3 separate regions of the Homo sapiens genome follow, and all the other regions are linked to region 3. Evidence: fine-mapped expression QTL. A gene starts in region 3. Each other region holds a variant in brackets. All regions are shown on one strand. Distances are between the middles of the regions.

Region 1 (9,218 bases), 360 kb before region 3:
TAAAGGGACTTTTAAAAACTTGTATTTGAAAATACAACATTAGGACAATTTGGTATTAAATTCTGGGATCTCTGTCCATTATAAGCCCTCAATCCCACTGCTACACACAGCCTGGACTGGCTTCCTTTTCCTGGGATTGGATCATTACTTCCTGCTGGACACAAGGCAGGAGCTCCTTGTCAGGGAAGGGCATTTGGGAGTAAATGACAGGGAATTGAGGACACAAAGCAACCACCAGGCCTGGCCACTGAGTCTCCTGCTCACAAATGGAGGCTTAAACACACATCAGTCCACCTCTGCCACCTCCAGCCAGCTAAATACGCAAATACTGAGCTTTAAGAAACGAGGCCATGTTACCAACCCCACTCCCCAGTCAATCCAAGCTCAAGAGACCAAATGTTTTGATCTGGGTTTGGGGGCGGCAGCACGCCTGCCAAGAGAGGAAGGCCTGACCCTGAATTTCCTCTGTCCTCAGGTGAGGGGGAAAGAAACACCACCAACCTTTGTCATCTCTCTGACGCCTGTTCCCATCTCTTACCACTAGGGGGCGGCCCTAATTTCAGAAGATTCTGGTCACCTTGGCCACCTGGGGCCGAGCCATGGTCACAGCTGAGGAGAGCTCAGCAAGGGTGGACCCTCACTGAATTTAAAGTCTGAGCTGTTGGGAAGAAAGGGGGAAGGCAGCAAGGTGTGGACTCCTGGGGGCAAGCACTGCAGGGCATTCAGAGGGTACTGGAGAGCAAGGAGGCACAGGGGAAGCCCGGCTGGGCACCTGCTCACCAAACGCTTTGCGGTAGGCGGAGCTGTTGATCTTGATGCCGGTGCAGAGAATCACCAGGTTGGTGGCCACCTCTGTGCCTTTGTCCGTCTGCACTTTGATGTACTCTCGATACTCATTGAGAGGCAGCTCCTCCAGATTGCTCACCCGCTCACCTAGAAGGGGGTTCATGACCAGGAGGCTGGTGGGGACAGGGACCCCATCAAGCCTGGACCCCAGGCCAAGGCTAACCCTGGGGAGGGCCTGGACCTCTGGGGCCCAACTGGGCAATGGCTGCACCCTGTCTTCCCACCATGCCCCTCCCTCAGTCCACTCTATGCCCCACAAAGCTGATCTGGACATCTGGCCCCGAGGGGTCCCTCTGGAGAAAAGTTCCAAGAAGCCCCTGGAGGGAAGCGAGGCTGTTTCCCAAGAAGTTCTCAGAAAAGCTGTTTAATGGAAGATCTCAGACGCGCCTCTTATGAGTGCCAGCCGTGCCATCCTAACTAGGCAGGACGAGCGCTCCAAGTGCACCACGACAAAGGGGAAAGCCAGAGAAAGAGAAGCCAGCTCGCTACACTCACTGCCTAAAGTGACAGTGACGGCAGCACTCCACAGCCAGTTACCAAAAGGAGGCTGAGGCAGCCATGCGGGCCCTTCACAGGACAGGTGCCTCACCCTCCCGCAAACAGTGAGGGGGCTGGGGCCCCATGCAGTGAAGTGTAGGGGCCACAGCGCTGGAAGAGAACCTCACTTTCCAGCATTTGCTGGGTGGGTCTCGTCCCCTGCTCTACAAGAAGGCCACACTCCTCACCACTCTCAAAACATAAACCAATAAACCTATTCCCTCAACCACAGAGACATCCTATTTGGGGCAAATCCTTCAGATGCACTCAAGAAAAATCATTCAGCAGACAGGCATCCCACCATCTGCACTGCATCCAAAGCAATAACCAGGACATGGAAATCCCGTAAGTACCAGGCCCTCTTCCCTGCCCAGGGACGGGCACAACTTCCAGCTGGACAAGGCTCAGATGGGCTTTGATGTTCACGGCCTCTTCTGAGCGCTTCATGCTCCACCCCAGGACACAGTGGAAAAGAGAGAGCCTGGGGTGGACCATAGCCACCCTCCTGCTGGAAGCAGTCACCAAGCCTCCAAGCCACATCTCACCAGGCCAGGGCAGGGCAGGGAGGGAGGTGAGGGTGCACGTACTCAGCAGCAGCTGCACGCCCTTCCGGAGGAGGATCTCCTTCACTTCCTGCCGGACGGAGGGCAGGAGCTCCTTGTCAGCCAGGGCCACTTGGGAGTGAATGAGAGTGACCTGAGGACAAAACGACCACAGGGCCTGAGAAGGAGCCCCCAAGTCTTCAAACACAATCATTGCACGAACGTCCACCTCCACTCATACCTCCAGGTTACAGATGAGGAAACTGAAGCTCCAGAGAAGTAATCTGTCCAATGCCAGGACCAATTAGTGGTGAGCTGGGCTTAAGCCCACATGTTCTAGACTAGGACTCTTTCAGTACCCTCCTGCCACACCCAGGCCAGAGGACTACCAATATGCCAACATGTCACAACCTACACCTCACCTAGGGCCACCTGGAAAATTATCTTCAAGCATCCTTGGGCACTTATAATTATACAAGCCATGGGCATTCCAACAGTCAATCAGACTGATGTCAACATTAAAGCTTGTTTAAAATTAGTGCTTCCAGGCATGTCTACTTGCTGTCTGGGACAACACAGGGAAGCGTCCCGGGCACCTCATGTTGCAATCATGTTCAAAGCCTGGGCTTTGGTATCAAATTGCCTGGGTTGAAATCCCATCTCTGATACTCACTTGGACACCTCCCAAAGGCTCATTAACATGGGCACAATAGCCCCACTCATAGGAATTTTGTAATGATGAGCAAAAAAATACGTACAAAGCATGTAACTCAGCACATATTAAGTCCTTAATAAAGGGTGGCTGCTACTACCCTTACTGTCTACAAATCCTAAACATGTGGATATTTTACTGAGTTACTTGAACTTTTTTACTACTTCAGACTGGTCTGACCCCTGTGAAATAAGAAGAAAAGTATATATTGGTCTCTGCCCCCAGTTCCTGATGCAGAGCTCTTAAAACCCTTGTAAATTGGGGTACTAAGAATCATTTGTTCTAATATTTGGTCCTCATTGCCGGTTCTTGATACAGAGCTCCTGAGATCTTTGTAATGT[C/T]CTGAGTGATGGGAGGGTCTGACATAGAGCTCCTAACTCCTTGGATGTTCCCGGGTGATGGGAGCATCTTTTGTTCTAATGAAGCTACTCCTGATGGGCTCCTGGATGATCGCTGGTCACCAGAGAGACCAAGCCAGCTTAGAAGTCTGGAACTTTCAGCTCCAGTGACGAGAGGGGGCTGGAGATTGAGGTCATAATCAACCTTGCCTACCTGATGAAGCCTCCATAAAAATCCCTAAAGTACAGGGTTCAGAGAGCTTCCAGGTTGGTGAACATGTCCACATGCCAGGACAGTGATGCACCCCAACTCCATGGGGACAGAAGCCCCTGTGCTCAGGACCCTTCTAGACCACGCCCTATGTGCCCCTTCATCTGAATGTTCATTTTTATCCTTTAAAACATCCTTCGTCATAAATCAGCAACAGCAAGTAAACTGTCTCCCTGGCTTCCATCAGCTGCTCTAGCAAATTATTTAACCCAAGGAGAGAGTCATGAGAATCTCTATCTTGTAGCCAAGTGGGACAGAAGCGTGGGTAAGCTGGGGACCTATGGACTTGCAACTGGTGTTTGAAGTCGGGGCAGGATCGTGGGACTGAGCCCTTGACCTGTGGGGTCTGCGCTAACGCCAGGTAGTGTCAGAATTGAATTGAACCGTAGGACACCCAGCTGGTGTCAGAGAATTGGTCAGTGGGGGAAAAACCCACACATCTTATCCCAGAAGTGTGGAGTGAGTAGGGAGAAAAACAGTTTGGTTTTTCCCTATAGAACCCTCATACATCAAAATGAATGAATGTAACTAGATCAATCACTCATCATAATTTCCAACAATTTGTCAGAGAACAGCCATATAATTAAGTTATCCTCTATTGATTTTTCTTTTCAAAACCAACCTGCCTTTCCCTGAGGAAGAAAGATCCATTCAGAGGCCCCACATGGCTCTCAGAAGCCGATCTGGCTTCAACCGCAAGCAAGCTCTCGCCTAGAGGACCTGTAAGGACGTTTCTCACTCAGCCCTTGCCAAGCCTGGACAGGGTGCCAGGATTTCCTCTTTCTCGCTAGGTTGCCCGGTAGGATCTCTGTCTTTTGAGCATGAGAAAGCAACAGGGCAGGCTGATGTCCCCTCCCCGTTCCCACCCATGGGCAGAAGGCAGTGCTGTTCAGTCATTGCCCAGCGTGGGCAGAAAGGGCTCTGCTGCAGGCTCCCCACCACCATGGGGCTGCTCAGAGCAGGGGCTACCATATCAGGCAGAGACCAAAGCAACAACTGAAGGTGTCTTTGTCCAAGCTGGTTGCCAGCAAGAGGTAATCAAATACTGGTTGCCAGCAAGAGGTAATCAAATATACATTTGTATCACAAAGGCCTGAATTCTGAAGGTGACACAGAAGTTCCGCTTTTGCAAGGTATTGCCCCTGGGCTTGATCCTCCAAGTTGGAGCAGAGGGCAGGACCTTTCCTTGAGAAAGGACACACCCTGAGCAGCTCCGTAAGGTCAGGTGCAGCAGGATCCCAGCTCTGCAGGAAAAATCCCCTATAGAATCACACCTTGGCACAAAACAGAAATACACACTCCCAGTTTATGTGAATAGAGCTCCAGACTTCTCTGCCCTGAGCAAATTCCTGATGTTCCTAAGATAATGCAGAAAAAAGCCAACCACTTAGAGCTCCAAGGCAAGGCAGCCTGGCTCACCTCTTTCTCAGGATATTCTGTTTTAATCTCTGCTGCCATCTCCACTCCAGCCGAGCCTCCTCCCACCACCACGATGAACCGTGAGCGCTGGACCTGGAGAAGAGGACATGTGAAACAGGGACATATGAAACACACCTACACATCCACCTCTGTCTGCTGGTTCAGCCTGTGGTGTGGCTCCCTGGGCCAAAGGAGGGCAGAGAACCCTTTCCACATTTTGAGTCCAAACGTGCTTCCTCCCACCCACCTCGCAGAATTGCTGTGGAAGATTGTGGATCTAAGCCTGCTCTACAAAACAGAGCCTTATGAAAACAGGAGTGGAAGGGACCCGTGAAAAGCCCCAGGAGAGGAAAGTCAGAGACATACCAAGGGCAACATGAGCAGGTTTAGGGTGCTCACATCCTGGCTCCAGCAGCAAGTTCAAGGTCTCTTCCCAGGAAAGTCTCTTCCTAGTGACTCTCCAACTCTATGGCTACAGCCAGCAGCTCTGAGTAACCCCGTGGCCTCCCAGCTGCAGGCCTAGGCATCCCCAAGGCTGTCCTTCCATCTGCCCACACTGCCCCATGCCTTCAGTGCACAGCTCACCTGCCTCACCATGTCCTCATAGGCCTGGATAGCGGCCTGCTGGCTGGAAACCTCATTAAACTTGCCCGGGAAGGGCCCAGTGCTGCCCGTGGCCAGGATAAGATGAGAGAAGGGCAGGGCCTGAGAGAAACCAAAAAAAAAAAAAAAAAAAAAAAAAAAAAGATGAGGGTAGGGCAGGGCAGGGCAGGCCTAGGCCTCTGCATCCTACTCCCGGCCTGCCAGCCGGGACAAACCAGGCAAAGAGGCCCCTCTAGGCACCCGAGGCAGCCCCCATGGGAGGGGGTGAAACCACCACACTGGTTAGCCCAAAGGATGGCACTAGAACCTGGGGAAAGACCTAAGGAAGTAGAGTTTACCTCCGCGTGGAGAATGTGGGGGCAACTGGAGCCACCCAGCATGGCAGTGGGAGGGGTGCCTGGAAGCAGGAGGCAGGGCTGCAGGATAGGACACTGCCCACGGGAGTTAGCTCAGAACCTCCCGGGTGTTTTAGAAGAACCCTCCTCCTGCCTCCGCCAGGAAGAAAAGAAAGGGAAAGAAAGAAAGACTGATCAGTAGTGGCATCACATCTGTGAACAGCCACTGCACTGAGCAACATACCAAGACCCCATATTAATTTAATTTTTAAATTAAAAATAAATAATAAAATAATTTAATTTTTATTAAATATTTTATTAAAAAATAATTTAATTTTTTTAAATTAAAAATAAAAAAAATTTTAGGCCGGGCACAGTGGCTCACACCTGTAATCCCAGCACTTTGGGAGACCAAGGCGGGCGGATCACCTGAGGTCAGGAGTTTGAAACCAACCTGATCAACATGGCAAAATCCCATCTCTACTAAAAATACAAAAATTAGCTGGGCGTGGTGCCATGCGCCTGTAATCCCAACTACTCAGGAGGCTGGGGCAGGAGGATCGCTTGAACCTGGGAGGCAGAGGTTGTGGTGACCCGAGACCATGCCATTGCACTCCAGCCTGGGCAACAAGAGCGAAACTCCATCTCAAAAACAATTAAAAAAATTTTTTTTTAATTAAAAAAATTGTAAACAAAGAAAAGGAAATCTTGTTTGGAGCCTAAATATATAAAGTTGACAAAAACAGAGCTGCTCCAATGGGAGGGGCTGGAGGGCCTGGACTCCACTCAGCCCCTACTTTCCCCTGAACCTCCAAGATGCCCTCATGGAATCTTCCAGGGCTCTGAAACGCATGGCTGGAGACTGCAGGACCAGGGGACACTCAGTAATCTTTCCAACCAGGAAACTATCTGGCCCCATTAATTCAAGAAGGGCTGGGTCACACGAAATCACAACTCATCAAGGAAAGGAATTGTGTTTCCTTTTGTCAACGCCCCCTTAGCTTCAAACACCAAATGGGGCTGGGCTGGACATGACACTCATCCAGAGCTGGTGGCAGCTTATCGATGGAGCTGAAGTCATGGCAGGTGTGTTCCAGGCTCCATGATGCACATGTGAGGTGGGGGAACACACAAATGAGTGAAGGGAAACCTCTGCCCCAGTGACGTCCCGATCCGGGGGATGTGGGACCATGCGTGTGCCTTTTTGTTCTAGACAGAGCCGAGGGCTGGCCAGGCCTGGGAGTTGTCTGGGACGCTGGCTTTTAGAGCATGGGCTCTGGGCTAAAATTGCATGGGTTCAAATCCTAGTTCAGTCTCTTACCAGCTGTGGGATCTTAAGCAAGCCATTTAACCCTTTAGCTTCTCTGTAAAATGAAGTTATACCACCTTCGCCATAGAGGCACGGTAAACATTCATGAGACTTACGTAAAGGCTACAAACAGGGCCTGGCATGCAGGAATTACACAAGAAATATCTGCCACCATATTCTTGTGGTTGCTGTGGTCAAGCCTTTGTTTATGAGGAATCCGCTATCTGCCCAGCACCAGGCAGGGCTTGGGGCTCACAGACAGCATTCTCTTTTTTTTATTTTTATTTTTTGAGATGGAGTCTCTGTCTGTCACCCAGACTGGAGTGCAGTGGTGCAATCTCAGCTTACTGGAACTTCCACCTCCGAATTCAAGCAATTCTCCAGCCTCCTGAGTAGCTGAGATTACATGCGCCCACCACCACACCCAGCTAATTTTTGTATTTTCAGTAGAGACAGGGTTTTGCCATGTTGGGCAGGCTGGTCTCAAACTCCTGACCTCAGGTGATCCGCCCGCCTTGGCCTCCCACAGTGCTGAGATTACAGGTGTGAGCCACCGCCCCCAGCCTAGCTCTCTCTTGACCCTGGAGGATCCCGCCCAGGCCCTGCAGAGGGCCCTTGAGCCAGCTGGCAGCCGGGCTGGCCCTCACTCACCTCGCCACCCTGCAGCAGCACCATCTGGTTCTTCAGGTCTATCCCCACTACTAGCCCCTGCCGGAAGTTGTCCTTGAAAGTCACCGAGTAAGAAATGAATGTCTTTTTGGCGAACCCTGGGGAAGGGACACAGAAGAGGTCATAGGGCAGAGCCAGGCTGCCCACGGGAAGCCAGAGTGACTCAGAACCTTTCACGAGCTGCAAACCAACAGGGGTGCCCTTGACCAAAGCGTCGGGCCATTAGGTATGCCTGGGGTACCCCTACTTCCTAAAATGCCAATCTGGGCCTCAGACCGTCAGAAAAGCTCAAGCTTTTACTTCTAGGGTCTCATTGTGGTGGCTACTTAAGACCAAAGACCTTGAGCTTCTCCAGAACTTGTCTGACAGTGGAATGCAGGCACTTGGCCCTAAATGGAGAAAACCACCCCCAGCCCTAAAATCAAGCCCCAGAGCAGAGACAAGACCCCCCTCACAGAGACAGCCCCAGACGGGAGCACATTACCTGTCTCCACGGAGGCTCGGAGAGCAGCCACATTGTGGTGGAAGGAGTCCTTCATGTCCACCAGCATGAAGGGGACGTTCAGGGCCTGCAGCTGGCTGGCTGCTGCGATCCCGCCAAAGCCCCCACCCACAATCACCACGTGCAGAGCTCCCGATTCCACCGAGACCTGGGACCCCATCTCAAATCAGGCACTGCTGGGAAGAAAGAGGAGAGCATATCAGAGTCAGGGAGGCTGGGAGGGCTGGGAGGACCCACAGTGAGAGAGGCCTCGATCATGAATTGACCTTTTTAGATGAGGTAAATCTTTGATTAATGAAACTCCAATTTTATAAAATTTGAATTAAATTCAGAAGGAACAAGGGGGTATCCCACTTCCAGCCCATTCCCCAAACACCAAGTTCCCTTCTCCAGAGGCATCCACTGTTACGTAACAAGTTTGGATGACTCCTTCCAGAGATAGTTTATGCAACTATAATCACGATTATTTTTTGCACCCATTAAACAAAGTGTTCTGCACATTTGTTTTTTACTTGATATATTCCATCAAAGACTTTTGGGAGAGATTGCAGTGGGGCAGGAGGAAAAAAAAGACTTTTGAAGAGGGGAATAATGTTCACTCAACAACATATATGAATTGAACTCCTGCTTTTTGACATGCTCTGTGTTGTGTATCCTGTGGTCAGACAGGCAGATATGGTCCCTGCCCTTATAAGGGCAGACCTTACAAAGTCAAAGAACCAGGTGGGCAATGTCAATGATGTGAGAAGCTGGGAAAAGGTGCAATAACAAGAAACAGTGGGCACACCTGTGGGGAACCAGCAAGCATAGGCCACATCTAAAGGAACAACAAAAAACATTCTTTAAGCACTGCACTAAACAAACACCGCAACCAGATTCAGCCCAGCTCACAGGTCACCAACTTAAGGTCCAGGTCTAAGGAGGTCAATTAGCAGGTTACGACAAGAATCCTGCAAAATTCTGCTTCTAGGGTTTGAATATGTCTCCCAAAAAGGAACAGTGTTAAGAGGTGGGGCCTAATCGGAGGTGTTTGGGTCATACGGTCTCCACCCTCATGAATGGATTAATACCAATTATAAAAGGGCTTTGAGGCTGCAAGTTCAAGCTCTTCCTCTCTCTCGCTCTCTCTTTTGCC
Region 2 (9,710 bases), 65 kb after region 3:
GCCGACACAGCGTCTGGCAGAGGGCGCTGTGGAGCCTGGAGCGATACTTCTACCTGATCCTGTTTAACTACTACCTTCATGAGCAGGTGGGGCCTGGGAGGAGCAGACCCACGTCCCCTCCTCCTGGGCCTCTCCCAGCCTCCCCACCGCAGTGACTGGCTTGCTGTGGAGGGAGACCCCCCAAGGAACCGGGGAGGGAAGGGAGGCCAGGAGAGACCCAGATTCGGGAGTAGTCCCTGAGCAGCTGGGCATAGGGAGGCCCCACCTCTTTCCACCGGGCCCTTGTCTCTGTCCTTAACCAGGACACCAGACGTCCAGGTCTTCTCTCAGCCACTCCCTTGTCCCTGCTCTGGGCCATGTTGGATATCTTTTGGGGCTTCCCCTGCCATGGTGTGGGCAGGGAGGGTTCAGGATGGCCCTGTGCCCCTGAATTCCTCGTCTCTCTGCCTCGGGCTGCAGTACCCGCTGGCCTTTGCCCTCAGTTTCAGCCGCTGGCTGTGTGCCCACCCTGAGCTGTACCGCCTGCCCGTGACGCTGAGCTCAGCAGGCCCTGTGGCTCCGAGGGACCTCATCGCCAGGGGCTCCCTAGTGAGTATGACTGGCAGTCGGAGAAGTGGGCATGGCTGTGTACTGGCCCTGGCCCCTAAACACTGGATTCCTGTAGGGTTGGGGTAAGCATTGCCCTTGCAGGAGGTGAAGAAGAGAGGCTGTGGGTGTTGGGATCCTCTTGTGAACAGAATGGGGTCATGCTTAGGCCCCAGCAAGCATTTGCAGCTTTGGCAGCTGTTCTGGTACCTTCTCCTCAGTCTCAAACCCAAGAGCTCTGGGCAGGGTTCTATGATCTTTGCCTCCAGCTTCTTCTCTTTGAGCCTCAGCTTCCTGGTCCAGAGAGTGGGCACCATTGCACTTCTTCTTGCCAGGGCCGGGGGAAGCTCCAAGTGTGCAGGAGTGCTTTGTAAACTGTGAAGCTCGGGTTCCACCCCACCCCCCGTCTGCCTTGGGCCAGGTCCTGACCCTTTCTGCGGCTACAGTCGGCTGCTGTGGGTCCCAGGCTTGGTGCTCTCCCCACAGCGGGAGGACGATCTGGTCTCCCCGGACGCGCTCAGCACTGTCAGAGAGATGGATGTGGCCAACTTCCGGCGGGTGCCCCGCATGCCCATCTACGGCACGGCCCAGCCCAGCGCCAAGGTGACCGGCCCTCAGGGCCTGGGTCCCCCAGTGGGTTTGGGGAGGGAGGGCTGAGCACTCACTGCCGGCCCTCCTGTGCCCAGGCCCTGGGGAGCATCCTGGCCTACCTGACGGACGCCAAGAGGAGGCTGCGGAAGGTTGTCTGGGTGAGCCTTCGGGAGGAGGCCGTGTTGGAGTGTGACGGGCACACCTACAGCCTGCGGTGGCCTGGGCCCCCTGTGGCTCCTGACCAGCTGGAGGTGAGGCCCCCTGCCCTCTAGGCACCCCTGCCTCCGAGGCTTCTGGGGAGTGGCCTGGGAGGGTCTTCAGAAGGCCTCACACTCCCGCAGACAGATGGAGAATCTGAGGCCCCGGGAGGAGCAGTGTCAGGGAGTGGCCAACTCAGGATTCCCACTAAAGTGCTCTGCTAACCTGCTTGGCTTTGGGGGGTGGCTGTGACCCCTGAGGCTTGGGGGGGTCAGGGATGGGACTGGAAGCCAGGGCCAGGCCTGGCCATGGCAGGCTGTGGCCTTTCAGGGCTAGCCTAGAGCCTGCCCCAGTGGCCTGTGTCCTCCCTCCTGCCCTTGCCCAGACCCTGGAGGCCCAGCTGAAGGCCCATCTAAGCGAGCCTCCCCCAGGCAAGGAGGGCCCCCTGACCTACAGGTTCCAGACCTGCCTTACCATGCAGGAGGTCTTCAGCCAGCACCGCAGGGCCTGTCCTGGCCTCACCTACCACCGCATCCCCATGCCGGACTTCTGTGCCCCCCGAGAGGAGGTGAGGGTGCTGCTCAGGCTGAGGCCTCTGGGGAGGGACAGGAGGCCTCCCTGTCTCCCCTCTGGTCTGGGCTCTGGGAGAATGAAACGACCCCAGCTTCTCTACGGGGCCCGGGAATGGTCTCACGAGGTTTTCCGATTTGGCCCAAGTGGTTTATTCACATTCCTTCCAAGCTTTGTGTGTGTGTACGTGTGTTTATTATGTGTTATAGGGTATATGTGTGTGTATTGTTATAGGTGTGTGTGTATTGGAGTGTGTATTCTGTTACGTATGTGCATATGTGTTATAAGATGTGTGTACATGTGTTTATTATGTTGTAGGGTGTATGTGTGTGTATTGTGTTATGGGTGTGTGTTATAGGTGTGTGTGTGTTATCGGGGTGTGTGTGTATTCTGTTACAGGTGTGTGTGTGTATTTGTTATAAGGTGTGTGTGTGTGTTGAGGGTGAACATGTCCAGGGTGTCCGTGGTGTGTGTGTCTCAGTTGGGGGACTGTGTATGGAGTGTGTGGGTGGTGTGTGGAATGTGTGTGTGTGTGCATGTCTTTTTATGGAGTTTGTGATGTCTCCCTTGTCTGTATTGGGGGCTGTGTGTGGAAAACCATCTTTAGGGGAGTGGTGTGGTGTGTGGTAGGGTTTGTGGAGGGGTCGTTAGGAATGTGTGTGTGTGGCATCTGTAGGTCTGTGACTGTGGGTGTCTGTATAGTGTGTGTGTTTACCGGACGTGGATCCCTGTGTGGTGCGTGTGTCTGGCGTGTGTTGTAGGTGAGCCACCGTGTGCGTGGTGCGTGTGTTGTAGGTGGGTCGCTGTGTGCTGTGTAACTGGCAATGGGGTCTGTTACCCTGCCTGAGCCCCTCCTGGCGCATCTCTTCGCGGCTCTCACTGCCTGCGGTCTGCTGCCTCCTGGTGGCCTTGTGCTGCAGGGCTCTTCTGAGGTCAGGCCCCCGTCCATGGTGGGACCAGGGCTGGGTCCAGCTCAGGTGGGTGGCAGGGCCAGCAGTCTATGTGCAGCCCAGGGGCGCAGTACACAGGGGTGACATACAGGTGCATGTCCTGCCTGATGGAGGGTGGGTACCTTGAGCCCCAGGTGCATGCTGTGTTGGCTCACACATCCTGTCCAGGTGCTTGGTGTGAGGGTGATTACGACTGCACAGGTGCAGCTGTTTACACGCACATGGTCTCATGCACCCCGGTGAGTTTTGTTTGTGTGTGCAAGCTTGGGAGCCTGACAATTTCTGGCCCGAGGACAGTGGCTGGGGCTGCCATGTGGATGGGGACCCTGTTGGGGTTTGTGCATCCAAGAGACGCCCGCTGACCCAGACCTTGCTTTTCTCGTCCAGGACTTTGACCAGCTGCTGGAGGCCCTGCGGGCCGCCCTCTCCAAGGACCCAGGCACTGGCTTCGTGTTCAGCTGCCTCAGCGGCCAGGGCCGTACCACAACTGCGATGGTGGTGGCTGTCCTGGCCTTCTGGCACATCCAAGTACGTGTGGCCTCTCAAGTGAGATTAGAGATTTGCCTGGAGGAGGGTAGACACTCAGGTCCCAGGCACACTGGCTCCACAGGAGGGTGTGAGGGGCAGAGACAGCCGGGTGTGGTCCCAGAGCCCCTTCCATCAGTCTTGGGCAGCCCCCAAGTCCTCCCCAGCAAGGGGCTCCTGGCGTTGGGAGGGGGCTTCTGTCTCAGCAGCTGTCTTCCCTCAGGGCTTCCCCGAGGTGGGTGAGGAGGAGCTCGTGAGTGTGCCTGATGCCAAGTTCACTAAGGGTGAATTTCAGGTGAGCATGCCCTGCGGGGTCCCTGAGGCACCTTGGGATGGGAGGAGGAGGAGGACTCCTGCTTGCCGGTCTAGGGGTCCTCAAAGCACGTCCCAATGCAGTCACGTCTGCCACCTCATCATATCAGTGCTTCCCTGTTCCCATTTTATAGATGAGCCCAGCAAGGCATGGGACAGCTTGGCTCTGAGGCCCTGGCAGACGGCCGGCTATGGAGATGTGGGCTGGACCCCTCCCTGCCCGGCCTTGCTGTTGGGCTGCTGTGTGCCTTGGGGAGGTCACTGGCCACCGTCTTGTCTGGGTAATGTTGATAACAACCTCCCAGCACCTTCAACCCAGCTGTGGTTGGTGACCTTGTGTGGGTCCCCAGCCTACTTTGCCCTGCCTGTTCCTCTATTTCAGATTAGGGCACTGGATGGCCAGCCACAAACATTCCAGATTTAGTCATCCATGTATTGTGCACCTGCCACATGCCACAGGCCATCTTCTCAGGCATCCCGAGAGTCGTGGCAACGTCCCTCGGAGTTGGCCCATGGCTGACCCACAGTCAGCAGCACAGTTGGCTCGTGTCTTACTGGTTAACTTCGCCACTTGCCCCTCCCCTGCCCTCGCCCCAGTCCTGAGGCCCTGACCGCCATGCAGCACCTCACACTTGCTAAGCTCTTGCAGCCTTTGCATATGCGGTGCCTTCTCCCTTCCTTCTTCTGGCTGATTCTCTGATTCTTTCCTTTTTCCTTTTCTTTATGTGGTAAAATATGCATAACATAAAATGTACCATTTCAACCATTTTTAAATGTACAGTTCAGTGGTGTTAAGTACATTCACGTTGTTGTGCAACTGTTGCCACAACCCATCTAACTCCTTCATCTTGCAAAACAGAACTCTGCTCTCCTATTCAGTAAT[G/T]ATTCCCCATCCTCCCTCCCAGCAGCCCCTGTTCTACTTTCTGTCTCAATGGATGTGACTACTCTAGGAATCTTCTATGAGTGGAATCGTACAGTATTTGTGTTTTATGACTAGTTTATTTCACTGAGCATAATGTTCTCAAGGTTTACCCACATTGTAATATGTGTCAGAATTTCTTTCCTTTTAGAGGCTGAATAATATCCCATTGTATGGATAGACCACATTTTGTTTCTCCATTCCTCCATCAAGGGACACTATTTGCTTCCACCTTTTGGCTGTCATGAGTAATGCTGCTATGAAATGCATAGTGCACGTAGCTGAGTCCCTGCTTTCAGTTCTTTTGGGCATATACTCAGGAGTGGAATTGCTGGATCCTATCGTAATTCTGTTTACTTTTTTGAGGAACCACCATGCTGTTTGCCGCAGTATATGCACCATTTTACATTCCCACCAGCAACACACAAAGGTTCTGATATTTCCACATCCTCACCAACACTTGATTTCTTTTTTCTGTTTTTTTTAGAGATGGGAGTTCACCGTGTTGGCCAGGCTGGTCTCGAACTCCTGACCTCAGATGATCCACCCGCCTCGGCCTCCCAAAGTGCTGGGAGCCACTGTGCCCAGCCGTTTTTTTTTTTTTTTTTTGGATAATAGCCATCCTGCTGGGTATGAAGTGGTATATTGTGGCTTTGATTTGCATTTCTCTAATGATTAGTGATGTTCAATATCTTTTTATGTGTTTATTGGCCACTTGTATATCTTCTTTGGAGAAATGTCTGTTCAAGTCCTTTGTCCATTTTTGAATTGGATTGTTGTTGAGTTTTGGTTCTTTATATATTCTGGAAACTAATCACTTATAAGAGAGGTGATATGTAAATATGTTCTCTATTCTGTGGGCTGACTTTTTACTCATTGATAGTGTCATTTGATGCACAAAAGTTTTTAATTTTGATGTAGTTTGTCTGTTTTTTCTTTTGTTGCCTGTGCCCTTGGTGCTATATCCAAGAAATCATTGCCAACTCCAATGTCATGAAGCTTCTCCCTTGTGTTTTATCCTAAGACTTTTATAGTTTTTAACTCTTAGGTTTAGGTCTTTGATCCATTTTGAGTTAGTTTTTTTTATATGGTGTGAGGTGAGGGTTATCTAAGTTTATTCTTTTGCATGTGGATATCTGGTTTTTCCAGCACCGTTAGTTCAAGAGTCTGTCTTTCCCCATTGAAGGGTCTTGGCACCCTTGTTGAAAGCCAGTTGACCATATGTATAAGGGTTTTATTTTCCAGCTGAGTTTAGTCTTTGCATCGGTGCCTTGAATGTGATGGTCAGGCCTCTCCTTCTTCACACCAGGCCCCGTGCTGGGAGCTGTGTGTACTCCCTCTGTCCCCTTTCCCAGCTCCCAGGAGGTAGGTGCTTTTACTGCTCCCAGTTTATAGATGAGAAAATGAGGCCTGGGGAGACAAGTTTATTACCCTAGGGCCACATCAGAGAGGTGGGGCTGGGGTATAAGCCAGGCTGTAGACCTCAGAGCCTGTGTTCCAAAGTTACATCATATGACCTGAAGACACCCCTGTACACCCTATCCTCACCCACCCCCAGATAATCTAGACCAGCTTCCTTTGCAATTAGTTCAGCATTTGCTGAGCCCACAGTCTGTTGGGGAGAAAGGATCAATAGAGCGTGAAGAGGCCCAGAGCAGACACTGGTTCTAAGGGCCAAGAGTGCAGCTGAGGGAGCCTGAGAGGACTTCATAGAGGAGGCAGCATTTGAGTGCCTTTGGGGAAGATGAGTGAGTATCCTTGGTGAGGAGGGGAGTGTCTGGAGGGATCAAGTGTGCAAAGGAGGGATTCTGGAAAGGGCAGGAACTATGTAAGGCTGTGATTTGTCAGAAGGGAAGCAGGCAGGACTGAGGGGTGGGGGCCCATATTGTGAAGGCCCTGGAGGTTTGCACTATGTGTTTGACCTTGACCGTGAGGCCAGGAGGGAGGCAGAGGAGGTTGTGATCAGGCTCTCAGTCTGGGGGCCCCAGCAGGCAGTTATATGTGGACTGGGGAGTGGAGGGAGAGGCAGGAGCTGAGTGAGGAGGGGCTGCAGGGTGAGCAGGAGCAGCCCAGTCCTCATTGGTAGGTCTTGAGGGCTCCTGGATGTGGGGTGAGGAGGGCACCTAGGATGACCTCGAGTTTCTGGCTTTGCAGTAGTGACAGCTGTCGATGTGGAATTCAGGGGAGGAACAGCTGCAGCAGAGGCCAGGAGTTGGGTTCCCTGTGAAGAGCTGCAGCCCTCTGTCTGAGGTGGCCCCCAGAGGACGCAGTTCCCTGCACCCTCCTGGGGACCTGCCTAGAGCTTGGGATTGGGGATGTGGACTGGACAGCTCCCTCCTACTCCCCTGGGCACAGCCTGAGCCAGATCTGCCACTAGTTCCTTCCAGACTGTTCCTTTTTCTCCTCCCACTTGGTTGCAACTCCATGCCTGCTGGGGTGCCCAGCACCAGGCCAGGACTCTGAGAAACGCAGGAGTTGGGGAAAGGCCCTTCCCTGTTCTTAAGTGGCAGCCAGAGAGAGAAGAGAGCGAGTTAGGTGTTCATTCATTCACTGGGCAGCTGATGCTGGGGCACCGGGCAGGTGCCAGGCACCACTCCAGGTGCCGGCAGAAAGCCCCTCACTTAGTGGGGAGCAGGTGTGAAAGTGGAAGCAGATGAGCAGGTGGCTGTCGACCACGGGACAGGGCGCTGTGGGGACCTTGCAGGGTGGTGGGGGTAGGTGGTGGGAGGGGTTATGGGTGATGCTGGAGAGGTAGGCTGGACCCAGTGGTGCGGGGAGCCTTTAGACCCCAGTTTCTGTGCTGAGTGTAAGAGAGCCATGAAGAGATCAAAGCCCGGGGATTATACAACATGGGTTCACATTTATACTTTCGTAAGACCTCTCTGGCCACCAGGGAGAGGGAGGGCGGGGAGGAGGTGGAGACGCTGGTCAGAAGGGTACTGCTGTGGAGGCAAAGGGGGATGGGGGTCTGGATCAGGTGCCAGCTGTAGAGAGGTGCAGTGTAGACAGATTTGGAGGGGAACTCAGCACAGGGTGGCTGGGAGGGCCTGTGGGGGAAAAGCCATAGAGTAACCTAAACAGGCTTCAGTTTTCCCAGCAGTAAGGGGCAGATTATATCATTTTTTTTCTTTTTTCTTTTTCTTATTACTCAGAGATGGGGTCTCACTATGTTGGCCAGGTTGGTCTTGAACTTCTGGCCTCAAGCGATCTCCCCACCTCGGCCTCCCAAAGTGCTGGGATTACAGGTATGAGCCACTGCACCTGGCTGGGGTGGGGAATTATATCAGATGAGTGGTGTCCAACTCTGAGCGTCTGCGCAGTGGCTGGGGGCTGCTGCAGGTTAGGAGGAGGGTGGGGAGGCTTCTTACACCCCCTCCTCACCCCTCCAGCCCTAGTACGTGACAGCTATCTGTTTTATAGATCAAAGTTCTGCATGAGGCCTCATTTGAAGCAGGATTTCTACTGCTTAAAAAATAAGCACCTCGACCAGGCGTGGTGGCTCATGCCTGTAATCCCAGCACTTTGGGAGACTTAGGCGGGTGGATCACCTGAGGCCAGGAGTTCAAGACCAGCCTGGCCAACATGGTGAAACCCTGTCTCTACTAAAAATACAAAAATTAGCTGGGTGCGGTGGCAGGTGCCTGTAATCCCAGCTACTCGGGAGGCTGAGGCGGGAGAATTTCTTGAACCTAAGAGGCAGAGGTTGCAGTGAGCCGAGATCTCACCACTACACTCCAGACTGGGTGACAGGGCGAGACTCCATCTCAAGCAAAACAAAACAAAACAAAACAAAAATAAGCACCTTAGATCAGCTTAACATTCCATGGGTGCATTGGGGTGGTTTTTGTATCATGTAATACAAAGCATACAAAATGGCAATTTGGAGTCACAGTCGTGCATTTAATATGTCTTGAACATCTTAAATGACTTATATTCCCATGGTTTTTTTTGTAGAATTATTTCTAATGTAAACCACTTCTTGATTGTGGCTCTCCTGTGAGAACTGTGTGCACTCTGTGATGTCTTTGGCTGTGGCAGTCCCGTTTTCCTAGTAACTCTATTGATGTGCTTGGACACTGAAAATCTGTGTAGTGTGCAAGACATTAAGTTGTGGATTGGTGGGGCTTATGCCACAGTTTATCAACACTTGAAAATACTGGTACTTAATATCTTCTTAAAGAACAATTTGCCTCCAAATTTTAAGCTGGAAAGTTAATGGAATAACTTTCCAGCACTTTGGGAGGCCAAGGGTGTGGATTGCTTTAGCCCAGGAGTTCGAGATTAGCCTGGGCAACATGCCAAAACCCCGTTTCTACTAAAAGTACAAGATATTAGCCAGGCGTGGTGGCATGGGCCTTTAGTCCCAGCAGCTCAGGAGGCTGGGGTAGGAGGATCACCTGAATCCAGGAAGTTGAGGCTTCAGTAAGCCCTGATCATGCCACTGCACTCCTGCCTGGATGACAGAGTGAGACTCTGTCTCCAAACAACAACAACAACAACAACAATAAATGTCAATGGAATAACTAAAAAGGAATCATAATCCATGCCTTTTTTAGATATTCGGTACAAATTCAATGTCTGTGTACTGATCCTCAACACAACCAATAAATCCCAATTGTGGAGGAAAAAGAAAAGCATCTGGGTAGCCTGGCCCCGGAGATGTTCAGGATCCCCCTGTCCTCCCTCAGTCTGAGAACTGAGGAGCAGGCAGGGCTCTCTGTTCAGCGCCTGGGCCTTAGGCCTGGTGTGGCCTTTTGGTGAGGGTGCAAGCCTGGTGCTTGGGCTGAGGGCTCTTACCAGTTTTATGTCTGCTCACCCCCCTTCTCTGGCCCCAGGTAGTAATGAAGGTGGTGCAGCTGCTACCCGATGGGCACCGTGTGAAGAAGGAGGTGGACGCAGCGCTGGACACTGTCAGCGAGACCATGACGCCCATGCACTACCACCTGCGGGAGATCATCATCTGCACCTACCGCCAGGTGAGCCCCCACCCCACCCCACCCCACCCTGCCCCAGCCACCCTTCCAGGTGTGCACAGCCAGGGAGTGGCTGATGTGGCTTTG
Region 3 (9,710 bases):
CGCCTCAGCCTCCCAAAGTGCTGGGATTACAGGTGTGAGCCACTGCGCCTGGCCAGATCTGAGTTATTTAAAGGAGGGAGAGGGTGGGACGGAAGGGGTGACAGCCTTTTTATTCAGGGATGGATGGTCCTGCTGCTGCAGGGTTTGGCAGCCCCCTCCCACCCCTTGTCTTTCCCAGTGTCCAGAGCCTGGGACTCTGCAGCGAGACCCAGTAGAAGGCCACTTGGAGCACCTTTCTGACGGCAGTAGTGGTGGGGGATTCTCTGCATGCCCCGGGGGCTCTGTACGAGTGCTGGCTGGGGGAGGGAGGAGGTGTGGGCAGAAGGACCAAGCATTGGAGAGGAATCTTCTGATGTTGATAACCACAACTCCTATTATGAACTTCCTCTCAGACAGCTATTTGCTAAGAATTTTAAATTTATTAGTTCATTTGATCTCAAAACTCGTCAAGGTAGGTATGACTATCCCCATTTTACAGATGTGGAAACTGAGGCTCAGAGAGACATTAAGTGACTTGCCTGAGGTCACACAGCTAAGTGGCAGAAACCAAATGAAAACTCAGGTCTTGTCTGATGCAGAAGCCAGAACAAACCTCCGTACATTGCTAGAGATGGCAGGGCCCTTGAATGCACCCACGTCTCCCCACCCCTAGCTGACCTGGAAGGTCCTGCATCCCGCCCTGCTGGGTGCCACCAATCGTGCTTCCCCAGCACCCTGGCCCCACCCCGACTCTGCAGGAAACACAGGGCTCTGAAATGATCCGTGACTTGTCTGCCTCTCCCACAGGTCTGTGAGCACCTCGAGGGCAGGGCAGGGTCTTATTCATCTCTGTGTCCTGAGCCCAGAGTCAGGCACATAGTGGGCACTTAAAGAGCATTTCCACATGGAGCTTGGATGCTTGAGCAGCTCTCCCTCAGACAGGGGCCAGCTGTCTATCTATGGACCCTCACTCTCTCCCCGACAGCCCTGCAGGGACCAGAAGAAATGATCCTTCTTTTTTTGTTGTGTACTTGTTTACTGTCCTCCCAGCCCACTAAAATGTCAGTTCCATGAAGGCAGGAACTTGTCTGCCTCATTCACTTCTCAGGGGATAGAACAGTCTTGGAATATAGAAGGGGCTCCATAAATGTTTGTTTACAGACTAATTTTTTTTTTTTTTAATTGAGACGGAGTCTGTCACCCAGGCTGGAGTGCAGTGGTGTGATCTCAGCTCACTGCAACCTCTGCCTCCCAGTTTCAAGCGATGCTCGTGCCTCAGCCTCCCAAGTAGCTGGGATTACAGGCGCACGCCACTATGCCTGGCTAATTTTTTTGTATTTTTAGTAGAGACGGGGTTTCGCCATGTTGGCCAGGCTGGTCTCGAACTCCTGACCTCAGGTGATCCACCCCCCCCCCCTCAGCCTCCCAAAGTGTTGGGATTACAGGTGTGAGCCACAGTACCCGGCCTGACTGACTAAATAAATGAATGAAATATTCGTGGAATGAATGAGCCAGGATTCCTCCCTGCTTTTCTCTCCTGATCTGATGGAGCATCTCTGTAGAACCTGAAGAATGTTCTGGAGCTAGAGTCACGCTCCTGCCACATGTCCTGGGTGCTCTTCAGTCAGGCCCTTAAGTGGTCCTGTGGGGAGGGAGGGGAGCAAGATCTGGTCCCTGCTCTTAGGAACCTCATTGTTCTGTGCAGCATGTTCAAACTGGAGGTCACGGGCAAAATCAGTGTAGTGCCCTGCAGTCAGCAATAACAAAAAGAAATAGGATAAGATAGATTAGAGGGCCGGGCGTGGTGGCTCACACCTGTAATCCCAGCACTTTGGGCAGCCGAGGCAGGTGGATCACCTGAGGTCAGGAGTTTGAGACCAGACTGGCCAACATGGTTAAACCCTGTCTCTACTAAAAATACAAAAATTATCTGGGCGTGGTGGCGGGCGCCTGTAATTCTAACTACTCGGGAGCCTGAGGCAGGAGAATTGCTTGAATCCAGGAGGCGGAGGCAGCAGTGAGCCGAGATTGTGCCACCACCACTGCACTCCAGCCTGAGACTCTGTCCAAGGAAGGAAGGAAGGAAGCAGGATGCATCCAATGCAGTAAGGCTAAGCATTTTTTTGTGAATAACACACATTCACATATCTGTGTAGCTGGCCCTGGTGTAAAATGTATTTCTTACTTTGGGTCTTGATAAAAAAAAGGTTTGAACCTTGTGTATGAATTTGGGAGTCGGGGGACGTAATCCTTAGGCTTAGACCCAAAGAAGGATATAATCAATAAAATGAATAATCCTGCCCATAATATGATGCCGATAACTGAACATGTATCCTGCGCCAGATGGGGATGCTCAGGTCCCAGGGCCTGGCAGGGAAGGGAGGGGAAGGATTCCAGAGTGGACAGAGATCCCATGGGCAGATAGGGGAGGAGTCCAAGGCAAATTGCCTGGAGGAGGAACCTGAACTCAGCCTCCAAACACCCCTCTGCCCTGGCAGGTTCAGGGCTAGGTCATGGTGTGAGCTTGGGTGGCAACAGTAATGACAGGAACAGCAGTCATCAGTAAGTACTTGCTGAGTGCCAAGCACCTTTTATCCTCCAGACTTTCCCAGGAAGCAAGAACTGCTCTTTGCATCATTTTACAAATGAGGAGACTTGGAGCAATGTGGTAACTTGTAGCATAGGGGTCACATGGTGGTAAAGTTGCTGTGGCTAGATCCAAGCCCAGGTCTGCCCTGCTTAAAGCCCTTGTCTTTAGGATTGCACACAGAAGGGGGCTGAAAAAGTGGGAGTGCTGGATGCTGGAGATGGGGCAGTGGGCCTGGAAGGGCGGATGGCCAGGGCAGACAGGGGATCCGTCTGTGTTGGGATTCAGGCGTCACGGATGAGTTTGCCTGAGGCTCAGAGACCACTGGGCTCAGGGCGAAATCACAGGCCACAAGACTCCCACCCTGAAGGGTGCACATGATCCCTGTTCTTGGCAGTAAGGTGGTCACAAGGAGCAAGGCCAGCCCATGTCCTGATGTTGTCCACTCCTCAGGTCCAGTGTCCCTCAGCTGTGGCAGATGTCAGGGAAGAGTGGGGAGTAGAGAAGAGCAGCAAGGGCCTGTTTCCCATCTTTGATCAAGATTCATCTTTGCTGGTTTGAACCCAGCTCCTCTGCTTTCCAGCGAGTCATTTGTGCCTGTCAGGAAATCATTTTTGGCTTGAGTGTTCCCTGGAGGGAATCTGGGGTTCCCACAGCTCATGTTTTTGCCCAGGAACTGAACTTGGGAGCTCTCTCCCAAGAGCACCAGCACCTTGCTTGGGCTGATGGGGCAGTGGATGGCCACAGGCGAGTCTGTCGGGGCGTGAGTAACAGGTTACTCATATTCTTTGCAGCAGCAGCTTGTCTGGTTTTGGACGGTTGCAGGTGCTTTGTGTGTGTGCTACACGTACACACACATACACACATGCTCACTTATAAAGCCACACTCACTCCCACTAGACACTTGCACAAACATGGATCCCTGCAAATATGAGTTCACGCACGAGCAATACAAGCATGATAACATGGTGTCTTGGACGTTTGTGTGTGGGGGATGTGGGTGCTGGCAGTGCTGGTGGAGTGCTGGGTGAGTGGGGGTCAGTCCCGACCTCTCTCCTTCCTGAGATCCTGTTCTGGGACCCATGAATCTTTTCTCAGGGGATTTTGGGCTTCTGCTCTGAGCTTCCAGATTTCTCAGGAATCTTCTGCTGCAGTTTGAGAGGCTCAAATGGGCTCAACTGAGAGCTGGCTCGACTGATTCTTTCGTTCTGCCTGGGGCTGGGGAGAGAGCAGGATGCCTTCTCTTGGGTGTACCCAGGGCTGCTCTGTGGCCTTCTCTCCTTCAACATTCAGTCCTTGTTCCCCTCCCAGGCCCACGGTGGGGCAGATCTGACTGAATCTTTCTTGTGGTTGGGACTTTTCTAGCCCCATAGCCAGCAGACAGCCAGGGCTGCAGGACTCGCTATTCTGAGTAGGGACTTGGCAGGCCCTCTGGGGGGCTGGTGGTGGGCTGGTGAGGCTGGGCACTGTGGTTTGGATGCAGTCTGTGGCCTGACCCTGAGGAACCTCCAAGCCCTCAGCCCCCTACCTACCAGCTGAACCCTGAGGCTAACTGTTAGATCCAGAAGGGTTGTGACTGCAGGCTGTCCTGAGAACATCTTTGTCCTGGGCTTTTCTGCTTGGTTCAACAAGAACACCTACTGTGTGTGTGGTGAGTACAAATGAATGTATGGAGACGTGCCAGGCACTGTGCTGTGGGCCAAAAGACAGGTCAGGCACAGGTAGGACATAGCTTTTGTTCTCTGGGAGCTAGAGAGGCACACCGCCGTGGATCCCAGCATCTGCTGGGCAGGGAGGGTGAGGGGAAGCAAAGTGTGTGTATTTGTATGTGTGTATTATGTGCATATGTGTATGTGCTATGTTTCTGTATGTATATATGTGTGCATGCATCCCTATAGGTATGCATGTTTATGTATATATTTGTATACATATATGTGCATGTATGTGTATACATGTGTGCATACACATGCACATGTATGTAAATGTATATTTTGCACCTGCTCACACACATGTTGCTCCTACCTTAGTCCTGGCCTAGAAGAGGACATTATCCTGGAATGCATCCTCAGGATGGCAGGCTTCAGCTGGGGAGTCTGACAGCTGGTGGGATGGGATATGGGGCTGTGGCAAGAGGAAGAAGGAAGGAAACTGTGGCCCAGGATGGAGTCCTAAAGTGTGCCACACACGATGCCTGGACATTACTTGCCCAGCTCACTGGCTTCTCAAATACCTCTTTGAAGGAGGATGAAGCCATCTTATGGATGTAGAAGTTGGGAATCTGAGAACTTACGTCACTTTTCCCAGACCACACAGCCAGTAAATTGTGAGCCACTTTGAGCCTAGCTCTGCTGAACTCTGAAGGTCAGGTCTGTTTCCCAAGGCCACTATGGGATTTTCTCTGCTGCTGTCCTTTTCACACACCTTGGGTGGCGCAGGAGCAGGTATGGAGCTGAGGACAAGTCTTCCCTGGGCCTGTTTCCTCATTTGTTAAAATAGGGATCAGAAAAGTACCGACCTTATAACTTCGCGAGGCACTTAAGAGCTAGGTGCTAGGGACATGGTGAGACCACCACAATGAGTGATTTCTCTTGTCTTCAGTTATTCTTAGGGGTCATGGGGAATGTGTTCCCCTCTCCCAGCCCAGCGCTCTCCAGCCTGACAGAGGTGGGGCCTACACTGCCTGCATCCTGGGGCAACCCCAGCTCGCCGAAATCCAGCTCCAGTCCTGAATGGGGGTGAGGCAGGTGGTAACAGGTGAGAAAAAAGGATTTCCCGAGTGTGGAGCAGCGAGAGGGAGGAAGTGACTCACCAACCACAACAAAGCCTATCTCTCCGCGAGGAAGCACAGCGAAGAGTGAACGCACGCACGTGGGTGCGTTCACCCACGTGCTCGCGGGGGCGTGCGGGGCCGTCGGAGTGGGCCGGGCTGGCTGCCGCCTAGTGCTAGTCCGCGCGTGTGGGGTGAGGAGTGGTGGGGGGGGCAGGCCTATGGTGCGGGTCACTGCCTGGAGCCGCATGATGGGTGGGGGCGGAGGGACCCCTCTCCATCCAAAGCTCTGCTCTGCTGTTCCCCTCTCACCTCTGGGGGCCGAGGGGCGCGTTTCCTTAGGACCCCGGGGCGTGGGAGAAGCCCCTGCTTGGGGGGACCGTCTGCTGTTTAGGGGCTCCCCTTCGACACGTGGGAGGCAAAAGTGCAGAGCGCACCATCATCCAGCTCCGGCCGCACTGCACAGCGAGGCCGGCCCGGAGCCCGGATGCTGGGCTCGGTCCCGCCGAGGCTCGGCCTGGCTGTAAAGCAGAGGGGGGCGAGGGAAGCCGGGCCAGCGGGTGTCGCGGGTAGCCGGCGTCCGGGACGGGGTGTGGCGCCCAGAGCGCTGCTGCCTCTCGCAGCCAGGAGGCTGGATGTCGGGTTTGGGTGTCTTCCAGAAGGAGCCGCACTAGCGACGAGGGAAGAGGAACTGGCTTCCCGGGCAGTCTCCCCCGCCCCAAACTTTTCCTCCTCGCGGAGGGTGGGCGGGCGGAGGGAGGAAGCGCAGCCGGGGAACGTGGCGCCCGCGTTCCTCCCGCCCGGGGGCTGCGGCTGGGCTGAGTGTGTCTTTAAATCTGAGCCCCCCGCCCCTCGCGGTGGGGCCGGGACTCGCGGTCCGGGCGGGGGCGGGCGCGGTGATTGGCGGCCGGGTCGGGTCCGCCCCTCGGCGTTGGGTAGCGGGGCGCTGGGGAGCAGCGCGGCGCGCACGGGCCGGGGCGCGCAGGTCCCGTCGCCGGTGAGCACGGGCTCCCTCTCGCGTGGCCTCGCCGGGTCCGCCTGGCCTGCCCACCTCCGGAGCCACCTCTGCCCCCGCATGGGCTGGCGAAGTTGGGAGGAGCGAGCTGGAGCCAGAGCGCGCGCCGGGCGCGCCCCGTCGCTGCCTGACTCGGCGCCCGCAGTTCGGGCGCAGCACGCCGGCCGCAGGAGCACGGATGCCCCCCGGAGCCGCGGGCTGGCAGGTACCGAAGTGTCCTGCCCTGGGGCTGGCGAGGGGAGGGCAAATCTGGAATCCCCCGGGCACCCCCCAGCCCGAGGCTGCTCCAGACACCAACTCCCCATCCTTTGGAGAGGTGAGGTCCTGGGCCTTCACCCCACACCCGCTCAGGATTGGTCCCTGGGAGGCAAGAGGGACTCACAGGGAGCAGTTGCTGGGTGGTTGTGTGTGTTGGACCCTGGGCTACCCCCTCTCCCGAGTTCCCTGGGTTTGGTGTAGGCATGGCCTGGTGACAATTCCACTTTTCATTGCCAGACCTGGGAGCATGGCCAGGAGCTAGGGTTTCCCGCGAAGTTAGGGGGAGATTGGGGAGAGGGAAGCCGCTTCATGACCGAGATGGGGTCCTGGGACTCATCTCTAGGGGGCGTGAGGCCCTCAGACCCAGGACGAGTCCAGAAGTCTCAGCGGGCACAGGCTTTGATTCTTGGCCCAGTCTGGCCCTCTTCCTCTGTAGGCCCGGGTCTCCAAGGAGAGTACGTTTTTCAGTTTCAGAGGGTTTTCCTGAAGGGGCAGTAACCTGTCAGAGAGAGAGTGGCCTATGGGAGACCCGGCTCCTGAAGGTGGCCGGGATGGTTGGAGCCCTTTCTCTTGGGTTGTCAGAGATGGGAGTAAAGCTTCATGGCCCAGGGAATCTTCTGGGCATCTCTACTCTCCCAGCCAGAGGCCCAGGAACCAACTCCTTGGCTTCTGGGTAGAGTAACCTGAACCCAGTGGCCGAGCACCTCTTAAATGCCAGGAAGGGCACTGGGCCGTGCCCCTGGAATGTGTGGATGGAGGAGGATTTGGAGGATTCTGTCCTCAGGAGGCTCAGCCCCTGGGGGCAAGACAGGACATAAACACACAAAGTTCCCCGATACAGGGTTTCAATACCAGTCCTGAACTGGTAATAGTGGAAAGCCAAGAGGCTACACACCATTAATTGCTATGTGAGTAATGTAGGCTGCGAGAGTGCCAGGGCAGCAGAGATCCAGTTCCATGCAAGCAAGCAAATGTGCTGAAATGTTCCAGCTCCATGCCCGCCCTTCCTTATTACCTTGCTCCAAGGGCAGGGAGCAGCAGGGGCGCTGAGGAGGTTCTCCTGCACTCATCCCCACCCACTCCCAGGTTTGTTTGTTTCCTGCTGGTGGATTTCTGAAATAACCCATTTGGTTTCTTGGCTTGGGCTGAGCACAGGACACTCCTAGTTGCCCTGTGGCTCCTGGGGTTTGGGGTCTAGAGCCAGCCTTGTAGGAGGTTCAGAGGTAAGCAGGAGGAAGTCCTCACTTCCTTTCTGAAGAGCCTCTGTCGCGGGGGGTTGGGGTAGGTCGGGAGGCTGGCAGGCACTGGGCCAGTTTCCTATGAGTGCAGACAGACCCCAGGTGGTGCATGCACCCCCCTCCCTTTCCTGGCCAGTGTTGGGGGTGGGCACAGTAGGGCCCAGGTGGCTTGAGGTGGGTGGTTCCTGGCACAGCTCTGACCTCACTTCTGTGAGGCTCTGCTGTATCTGGGGCCCTGCCCCCTCCCTCATTGTCCCTGGCAGGTTTCTGTTTTTCTGGAGCACTTCGTGGAGGTGGCAGTGTGCTCATGCTCGTGGCCTTGGGTGCAGTTCTGGGAGTGGGAGTTGCTGAGCTCACCCGAAGCCCTTGGCTGGCACTGTGAGAACTTGTGTGAACACACTTGCCTGCCTCCAAACAGGTGGTGCACAGACCTGGGTTACCCAGGCACCTGTGGGGGATGCCCCGTGTGGGCAGAGACGTGAGTGCGTGTGTGTGCTCAGGTTTACATCTGTGTGGGCAGAGACGTAGAGGAGCTGGATACATATATACTTGAGGACAGACACAGGAGGATGGTGGGGGTGAGCAAACAACCCAGGGACACAGACATGTGCGGGGACAGACATACATGAACCCATCAGCGTGGGCCACGTATGGGCTGCAGACACGTACATAGAAATACACCATTGCTGGGATCTGAATCTCCCCACATGGGAGGCAGACATGTAAGTGGACAGACATATAGGTAGACCCAGCAGAGCACAGACGGGGATGGGAACCGACATTCCCAGACAAAAGACTCGGAGCCACAGGGAAGCCGCTCAAGTGCCTGGGCAGAATGGAGTTGGCTGTGAGCTCCTGGGGGGCACAGACACATATGCTTGCCAGAGCCAGCGGACAGCAGAGGCCAGGAACCAGACACAGGTGGGTTCTGAGAGGTAGGCCGAGGCGTGCATTGCCTGGTTATCACTGTTTCCCTGCGTGGCACAGTGCCCGGAAGTTGTCCTGTTTGGGGTGGTGATGGTACAGGTGCTCTGTGGTGGAGCTTATTTCTAGACTCTCACTTTGGGGTTTGAGGACCCCAAAAAGCTCAGTCTCCTGTGTTTTACTCAGAGTCATTTGGCCTCTCCACCTCTGCATTACAAGGCTGTGTTTGTGCCTTAAGTGCCAGCAGGTGCTCTTTGAATTTTGATTCTCATCTTCCCTGGATCTCCAGAGGCTTCCTGAAGTGAGGCTGTGTGGCCTGGGTAGGGTGCTCCAACTGTTCCTTTCCTACCAGAATAGGAGAGGAACTGTCTGGGGATTCTCCTTCTGAACCCAAGCCTGCGGGTCTTTGACAGGGATCCCCCAGGTGAGAGAGAGAGCACACATGTAGCTGCGTCTGTGATGAGAGCCACTGCCCTCTGGGGCGGGCTCCTTCTCTGCTAAGCCGTGGGCTTGCACAGGGAAGGGGTCCCCCACCTGGCTATGCTCAGGTCTCCTCTGCCCAACCTGGCACCTGAGAGACAGCCCAGATTCTAGATATGCTTTGATACTAATGCACCATGCAACCTCCAGCAAGTCAATTAATGTATTGGTTTCCTCATCTTTAGAGTGGGGTCAGTAACCTCTACCTCCTTGTGGGTTCAGTGGGAGAAAATCAGTGCAAAGCATGTGGCCCAGTGCATGGCATGGAGTGAGTGCTCAGTTGATGTGGCGGTGGGGGCCTTTGATTATGAGCCATCCCCTGTGGCCAGGACTCTGCAGGGCTTCCTCAGCAGCCAGGTGCATGGCCCTGGGCCTCTGGGTGAGGTCTGGAGCAGGCTGGGTGGGCCAGGCACCTCTCCTGTGAAAGCTGGAGGGCTTTGTCCTCAGTCGGTGCCCACTAGT

Which allele goes with the higher level. Alleles are on the strand shown, and positions count from the first base shown. SD is a standard deviation of normalised expression in the study named. Not every link is listed here.
As copies of C replace T in region 1, the expression in prefrontal cortex of the gene that starts at base 6,261 in region 3 goes up (large effect, 0.82 SD a copy in ROSMAP).

The links.
Region 1: its variant is fine-mapped to the expression of PALD1 in prefrontal cortex (ROSMAP, PIP 0.95).
Region 2: its variant is fine-mapped to the expression of PALD1 in whole blood (INTERVAL, PIP above 0.99).

The regions. Positions count from the first base shown.
Region 1 is chr10:70,115,842-70,125,059 of GRCh38, forward strand. AIFM2 (AIF family member 2) reads right to left here. Exons shown (of 9, transcript NM_032797.6): 2 at 8,066-8,256; 3 at 7,564-7,679; 4 at 5,251-5,370; 5 at 4,666-4,758; 6 at 1,971-2,079; 7 at 781-933. The coding sequence starts at 8,243. Among named protein-coding and RNA genes, the nearest start is that of AIFM2, 12 kb to the right of the region's middle. The variant C/T (reference allele first, on the strand shown) is at 2,979.
Region 2 is chr10:70,537,821-70,547,530 of GRCh38, forward strand. It overlaps PALD1 (phosphatase domain containing paladin 1), which reads left to right. Exons shown (of 20, transcript NM_014431.3): 11 at 1-86; 12 at 460-588; 13 at 1,072-1,188; 14 at 1,272-1,427; 15 at 1,760-1,942; 16 at 3,282-3,422; 17 at 3,643-3,714; 18 at 9,486-9,626. Among named protein-coding and RNA genes, the nearest start is that of PRF1, 60 kb to the right of the region's middle. RefSeq lists enhancers at 1-457, 458-1,143, 4,065-4,565 and a silencer at 1-59. The variant G/T (reference allele first, on the strand shown) is at 4,615.
Region 3 is chr10:70,472,507-70,482,216 of GRCh38, forward strand. PALD1 (phosphatase domain containing paladin 1) reads left to right here and starts at 6,261. Exons shown (of 20, transcript NM_014431.3): 1 at 6,261-6,553. RefSeq lists enhancers at 462-1,228, 3,967-4,046, 7,591-8,233, 7,877-8,056, 8,234-8,875 and silencers at 5,877-5,946, 6,147-6,596.